Linked DNA regions of Homo sapiens. The gene in region 1 interacts genetically with each later gene. Each region holds a gene or a part of one and is shown on either strand. Other genes may lie near its edges.

Region 1 (3,825 bases):
CAGGTTGATAGGTGCAGCAAACCACCATGGCACATGTATACCTATGTAGTAAACCTTCACGTTCAGCACATGTATCCCAGAACTTAAAATAAAATAAAGAATATATGCTGTTCTTTCTAAGGGCCTGAGATTTCAGAAACTGAAAATTTTTTTTTCAAAATTCTGTTTTCTGGGCCTGACCACTTCATGAAATATGCATAATAAGAGTTTCTTAAAAGCTTGTAAAGAGTTTGGAAGCCTATTTATTGCCCTCAATAAATTTATGTCTCATTTAGGCAAAAAAATGCCAACCAAGTACAAAGGTATTGATATAGAAACAAGCAAATAAATACGACTCACTCGCATAAAACTCTGAAGCCCAGTTTCTGGATGTACTATATATGTGCATATAGAATTAATTATATTCTTTTAGTTATATAAGTACTCTCTGAGACCAGCTTTTAATTTGTATGAAAGTTTCAGTAAAACCAAATTCTTGCTACCTTATGATCAAAGCAATTAGGTATGCATGAAAGATCCAGAATGATATTCTGAGCATGGTGATTAGCCAATTTCAACATTTGGGATTAGAGGCAGGAAAAAAAAAAAAGCCAGTATTATAAGGTTTGTCTAATAGAGTTGAGACTTAAGAGTGAAGTTCCATCAAAATATTGTGATTAAGGAGTTTCAAGGCCAGGATTGAGCATTTGGTATTAATACCTACTTGGGAGAGTTATAAACTAGAAAAAATAACCTTGAGTTTCAGTTCCATATTCGATGATAACTAGATTATTATATTGGGCAATCACATAGTTGCTCACTGGAAAAATAAAATACAAATCCCCGGCCTAATTCCTTGGGTTTGGGTAGGATATGCATGGCACAGCTTAGCCTTTCTGGGTCCTGCATTTGAAACAGTATAGAATTTTAGAGCCAGAAGGGACCTGAAAGATCAGCTCACTCCATCCTACTTCACCCCAGTTGATATTTTTATCCTTGACCTCACAAAGATGTTGCTACCGAGTAGTTGCCTTCAATGTAAAATTTACTGGGCAAGATCACTTCCCATGAATACTGCTTCACACTTAATTGAGATTTTTTGGAGAAAATAATTAAAATAACTTGGAGAAAACATATAATTAAAAAATTATAGCAGATTTGGAGATGAGAAATGATGGGAAAATCATGTTTACATGCTTTCGTTTGTAAGCATGTTTCGATTTTTATAACAGTTATAAAATCTGTTATAAAAATCAAGAAACTATGACACCTTTCTCCTACCATTAATATATACATATAAAATCAACCCTGGAGTCTTTTTACAGGGCTTATAATTGTGCAAGCAGTATAAGATCATCTGTGTGACTTAATGAGGCTCATAAGTCTATGGAGACAGAATCACATAATCTGGCTAAGAATTTAGATGTTTACGGCTTTTGTTGGGTGGGTCAGATTCCATTCCTGAGAAAAGGATGGCTTTGAAATGCCTAATCTGGAATTTGTCATAGAAGTAATACTTGACCTTCTGCCATTTTCGAGCTATCTTCACTCAGGACCTTGAGGTAAAGCTATGATTATAGAGCAGTGATTTTAAATTTGTTACATAGGTGCTGTAAATGTGAGGAACTATAATTTATAATTTATTAACTCTCTAGTTTTAAAAATTGTTCATGGAAATTAAAACAAAAGATGGTTTATTAATATATAAAAACAAGTCCTCATTAAAATAACTGAGACAATCAAAAGTTTTTTTAAATGGAGAGGATGCAATGAATGAAAAATATAGCTTTCAAGAAAATGAATGCCATATCAAAATATATTAATACAGTAGTTCATAACAGATAAAACAAATATCAAATGGAACAAAATTTTCAAGCAAACTTAAGGATGTATGTTGTCTCTTTTACCATCAAAGTCAAGTTAAAACTGAGACAAAAAGGTTGTTGCTTTTCTCCCTTTTCTGTTATCTTGACTTTTCTTCCCCAGTTTTGAGTAAAAACTGGAAGCACTGACTGCATTTTGGTTCAGCTTTTCCTACTCCTTTTGACCTCAAACCCATAGCTTCTTGATTGCCTCTTCTCTATAATTGCTAACCTCTGCTTCTGTTGGACATTGTAAGTAGGTTTTCTGACAGTCAATTAAGTGGTTTCTCATAATCAAAATCAAGGCTTCTAGAATCAGGCATATATAGTATGTTTTAAATAATCAGTAAGACTACTTTCTCCATACCACCTATTCTGTTCCTTTCCGATTTAGTAGTCATCTTAAATCTGAAAACATTACCATAAAAATCCATTGATTTGGCTGAGCGTGGTGGCTCACACCTGTAATCCCAGTACTTTGGGAGGCCAAAGCAGGCGGATCACGAGGGTTGAGGCAGGAGAATCGCTTGAACTGGGAGGTGGAGGTTGCAGTGAGCTGAGATCGCGCCAATGCCCTTCAGCCTGGCCGATAGAGGAGGACTCCATCTCAAAACAAAAACCAAAAATGAAAAATCCATTGATTTAGTAGCTGTATTGCTGTGACAAGGACTGGAACATAAAAACGTTCAATAAATATTAGTGAAGAAATGGTCTTGTGCAAGATGTTTAATTTAGCTAAGCCTCAGTTTCTGTCCTTAACTTTGGCATTCAGCTGGCCTTCCTTACAAAATTACTGTGTATGTTAAAGTATTTAGAAGCATATGAAGTACTATATAAATTTAAAATGATTTTTAACTGTTATTTTCAATTCATAGGAGGCAGAGGGTTAGCATTATACTTGCTAATTAACTTGTTCCTTGCTGTAGTAAAAATGTTCTAGATTTTCAAGAACAATTCTGATTTTATATTGTCTTTCATGTGGTTTAATCACGTAAACCATTGAAAAATCTCAAATTCACATATATAATGTGCAAACCATATCTTCTGTCTGTCTCATAGCTGCCCACCAGTCGCCTGTCAGACAGTGTTCTTATTTGGAAAGTTTCATAGGAAGCTAGTTCCTAGTACAGTGACAGTACTTATATAACACCCTAAGAAAAATATTGGCGATAGATAGTTCAGGCAAGATTTTTTTCAGGTAGTGTTTTCTCTTTGTATTTTTAATATTAGCATTTTAAATATAAAATTGTATAAAGATTTTTACTAAGCATTAACTTTGAAGATACTTTATTTCAGAGAAATATGGCCGAGCTCTCTAAGGATTCTGCCAGCCAGGGCACTGGCCAAGGAGACCCTGGACCTGCTGCTGGACACCATGCTCAGCCCTTGGCCTTACAAGCAACAGAAGCAGAAGCTGGTAATTGGATTTTGTTCCCACCAGTCTTTGTAGCATCCATAATCACCCATCTGAAGGGTTGCTTTGAGGATAAAAGGAGATCATAGATGTGAACAAATGGGTAATAATCGTCTGACTTAATGTCCCCTCTTCCTAGATTTCATTTTGTATTTAGATAAGAGGGTTAATTTAGGCCCTCTTCTTCTATTTATGGTTTTCCCTTCATTCACAACTGATTCTTGTTACAAGGAGAATCATGAGAGTTTTAATGGAGAAGTCATGTTTTTATTCCCTGAAATCAAGGGTTTCACATCAGAGAATTGCCAAGTAATACAGACTTTTTCATTCAAATTACTGAAACTAATTTCAATCACTTTTTAATGGAAATCTTTCTGAAATGTATTAGATGTTTTCTAATTGATTTGTGAGTTTTTCTGAGGGCCTGGGCAGTGTTTTTAATCTCTTCCTTTCCAACGTATGGCAGAGTGATGAATTAATAGTTTAACTTTTCCTTAATGACTTAGACTCTTCATCATGACAAAAGAATTCTTATACTGTACTAGAGCCGCTTGTATTCAGAGCTTACTG
Region 2 (3,825 bases), on another chromosome or scaffold:
TAGGGTTAGAGCTCAGGCTACAAAATAGATCTTGCTTTCCATTATATTACCTATTATTTTTTATGTGTTTTAATTACCTAAATTCTTTTCAATTGTTATAAAATTTCAATCATTTGTAATGCTTATTACAGTAGTTCAAATAATACAGAAATATCTCAGGTAAAATGGTTTCCTTTCCTCTCTTCCATTTCTATCCTCCGTGATATAACAGTTGTTGACCATGTGGAGTGTTTTCTTTTCATATGACCTCCAACCTGTGAAAAGATGTGTAACTCTTCCATTAGTCAGGGAGACATCAGATTGGCAAAAATTTGAAAGACATCTGGTATTAGTGAGATTGTAGGAAAATGGATGTTTATTGTTAGTAGTAAGGATTGCAAACTAACCTTTTTGGAAAGCAATCTGGCATATTTATGAAAATTCAAAGTGTTGTATCCCATCTAAAAAGTGTTATTGCATGAAGTTTGCTAACTTCATTATAAGGAATGTTATGTAGCTGTTAAGAGCTAGAGTATTGTTTTGGAAGAAGGTCCATAATGTTAAGGAAGAAAGCATGTTGTTGAAGGTATGTTCAGTAGAAACCCTTTCTGTTAAAAACAAATATGCAGGGGCTGGGCACGGTGGGTCATGACTGTAATCCCAGCACTTTGGGAGGCCGAGGTGGGCGGATCACGAGGTCAAAAGATCGAGACCATTCTGGCCAACATGGTGAAACCCCGTCTCTACTAAAAAGTACAAAAATTAGCTGGGCGTGGTGGCACTCGCCTGTAGTCCCAGCTACTCAGGAGGCTGAGGCAGGAGAATTGCTTGAACCTGGGAGGCGGAGGTTGCATTGAGCCAAGATCGCGCCACTGCACTCCAGCCTGGCAACAGAGCGAGACTCTGTCTAAAAAAAAAAAAAAAAAAAAAAATATATGCAGGCTGGGTGTAGTGGCTGGCCCCTGTAATCCCAGCACTTTGGGAGGCCAAGGCAGGTGAATCACTAGAGCCCAGGAGTTCAAGACCAGCCTGGACAACGTGATGAACCCTGTCTCTACAAAAAATACAAAAATTAACCAGGTGTGGTGGTACAGACCTATAGTCCCAGCTATTTAGAGGGGCTGAGGTGGGAGGATCACTTGAGCCTGGGATCTCCTGGTGGAGGCTGCAGTGAGGCAAGTTCAGACCACTGCACTCTAGCTTGGGTGACAGAGCAAAACTGTCTCAAAAGAAAACAAAAACAAAAACTAATATGCAGCATACACATATTCATTGTATTGTGTGATCTTGAACTGGGATGCAGAGGTTGCAGTGAGCCAAGATCACGCCATTGGACTCCAGCGTGGATGACAGAGTGAAACTCTGTCTCAAAAAAATAAAAATAAAACTACAAAAAATTAACCAGGCATGGTGGTGCACACCTGTAGTCCCAGCTACTTGGGAGGCTGAGGTAGGAGGATCACTTGAACCCCAGAGGCGGAGGTTGCAGTGGGCTAAGATTGCGCCACTGCACTCCAGCCTGGGCAAGTCAGTCTCGACTCCATCTCAAAAACAAAAAAAAGATCTCAAGGCTAGGTATTTACTTTGCTTAGATAGTCACGAGAACTTGAATAAAATATAAAACATATAAGTAGCTTTAGTGCCTAGCTCACTGTCTAGCATAGTAGCATATTGTGGATTCTCAACACATGTGTTTTGAATTTGTGAATGAAATTCACTACATAATGTATTATGAAAAGAATTGTGTATAATATATATCATATCAATATGCATTATATATATTATACACAATTCTTTTCATAATATATGGCTAACATGCTTTACAAGTAATACAACCAAGTTGTCAGATTTCTTGCATTTAACATCAATTTTGTCTCTACTTTAAAAAAGGTATTCCTTAACTACCTTGAAATAATTTTAAGCAGCTTATTGTAAAAAATACTTTGCAATAGAATTTTTAAAAGAAAAAGTTTTCAAAATGCAAAAAGTAAAGTGATATAGTAGAAAGAAAGTGGTAGTGTTGGGGTGTGCTAATGAGGAACAATCATTACAAAAAGCCCAAAATTAAGGAATGTTAAATTGCAACTAAGAGCAAAATTTGGCATTGTACCAGCCAGGCGCAGTGGCCCATGCCTGTAATCCCAGCACTTTGGGAGGCCAAGGCAGGTGGATCACTTGAGGTCAGGAGTTCGAGACCAGCCTGACCAATATGGCGAAACCCTGTCTCTACTAAAAATACAAAAATTAGCTGGGCATGGTGGCGTGTGCCTGTAATCCCAGCTACTTGGGTGGCTGAGGTATGAGAATCGCATGAACTCAGGAGGCGGAGGTTGCATTGTGCCGAGATCACGCCACTGCACTCCAGTCTGGGCAATAGAGTGAGACTCTGTCAGAAAAAAAAAAAAAAAAAAAAAAATTGGCGTTGTGTTCTGACCAACCAACATTTTTATTAATTTTATTTCTTTTTTTTTCCAATTTCTTTTTGGTAACATCTTTTCACAACAAGTTTCCTTAAAAAGAATCAGACAGAGAGAGGGAGAAAGAAAATCTGGTTTAAAGAAATATGCTATTCAGTTAGAATAGCTACATTTTTATGATGGTAAAATTAATTTTTATTGTGGTCCTCCTTATACAAGAGATATCAAACAACAGTTTCCTCAAAGGTGATTTTTTTTAAATGAGGTTTTATACAAGATGAATGTACAACATGTTTTATGACACCTTAGTCAATGAAAAAGGTTGTTTTTTTGTTTTGTTTTGTTCTGGTTTGTTTTTTTTCTTTGAGATGGAGTTTCACTTTTGTTGCCCAGGCTGGAGTGCAGTGGCGCGATCTCGGCTCACTGCAACCTCCACCTCCCGGGTTCAAGCAATTCTCCTGCCTCCTCCTCCGGAGCAGCTGGGATTACAGGCACCCGCCACCACGCCCGGCTAATTTTTTGTATTTTTAGTAGAGATGGGGTGTCGCCCTGTTGGGCAGGCTGGTCTCGAACTCCTGACCTCAGGTGATCCGCCTGCCTCGGCCTCCCAAAGTGCTGGGATTACAGGCAAGAGCCACTGCACCTGGCCAAAACAGGTTTTTTAATGAACAAATTATTGTTAGCTAACTAAAGATGGGAATAGAGTTTATAAAATCCAAAGGAATAGATGATGAGCATGTTCACTTGAATAGAATTGTTTTAACTGGGGTGTAGGTACACTCTGTTCAATTATAATAACTAGCCATAATAAGGTCTCCTTTTCTTCCTTAAAGCGCGTACTTGCTTTGTAAGTGATCTGAAGCGAGGACTAAAAATCCAAGCAGCAAAATTTAATATTGATGGGAATAATGAGGTAAGTTTAAAAAAAAAAAAGGCATCTTTTTGCAAAGGTTACAACATGTGTGGACTTATGTTTATGATATTTATATTTCAGCGTCCCTCCCCACCCCCAAATGTTGACTATCCATTAGATGGAGAGAAGATTTTACATATCCTTGGATCAATCAGGTTAGATCTTAAATTTTTACGGCAAAGTAGTAAACTAAAATAAACTTTTGGCTTTTAAAAATATTTGTATGAGCCTTTATTTCACTATTGCCATTTTAACAGTTCAGTGTTTATTGTTAAGCCTCATTATTCATGATTAATTTTATTCAGCTTTTTTTTTTTGAGACAAGGTCTTGCTGTGTTGCCCAGGCTGGAGTGCAGTGGCACGATCTCGGCTCACTGTAACCTTCATCTCCTAGGTCCAAGCAATTCTCCTGCCTCAGCCTCCCAAGTAGCTGGGATTACAGGTGCCTGCCACCATGCCTGGCTAATTTTTGTATTTTTTAGTAGAGACAGGTTTCCGCCATGTTAGCCAGGTTGG

What was found.
Region 2: changes in CEP152 (region 1) and ACTR10 together harm fitness more than expected from each alone (negative genetic interaction), as found in Homo sapiens cells (one large-scale study listed by BioGRID).

Annotation. Positions count from the first base shown.
Region 1 is NC_000015.10:48,751,782-48,755,606, reverse strand, and holds part of CEP152 (centrosomal protein of 152 kDa), read left to right. Parts: intron 1-3,137; coding exon 3,138-3,258; intron 3,259-3,825. UniProt on the Homo sapiens protein: Necessary for centrosome duplication; the function also seems to involve CEP63, CDK5RAP2 and WDR62 through a stepwise assembled complex at the centrosome that recruits CDK2 required for centriole duplication.
Region 2 is NC_000014.9:58,220,393-58,224,217, forward strand, and holds part of ACTR10 (actin-related protein 10), read left to right. Parts: intron 1-3,208; coding exon of another isoform or gene 3,209-3,229; coding exon 3,230-3,309; intron 3,310-3,390; coding exon 3,391-3,464; intron 3,465-3,825. UniProt on the Homo sapiens protein: Part of the dynactin complex that activates the molecular motor dynein for ultra-processive transport along microtubules.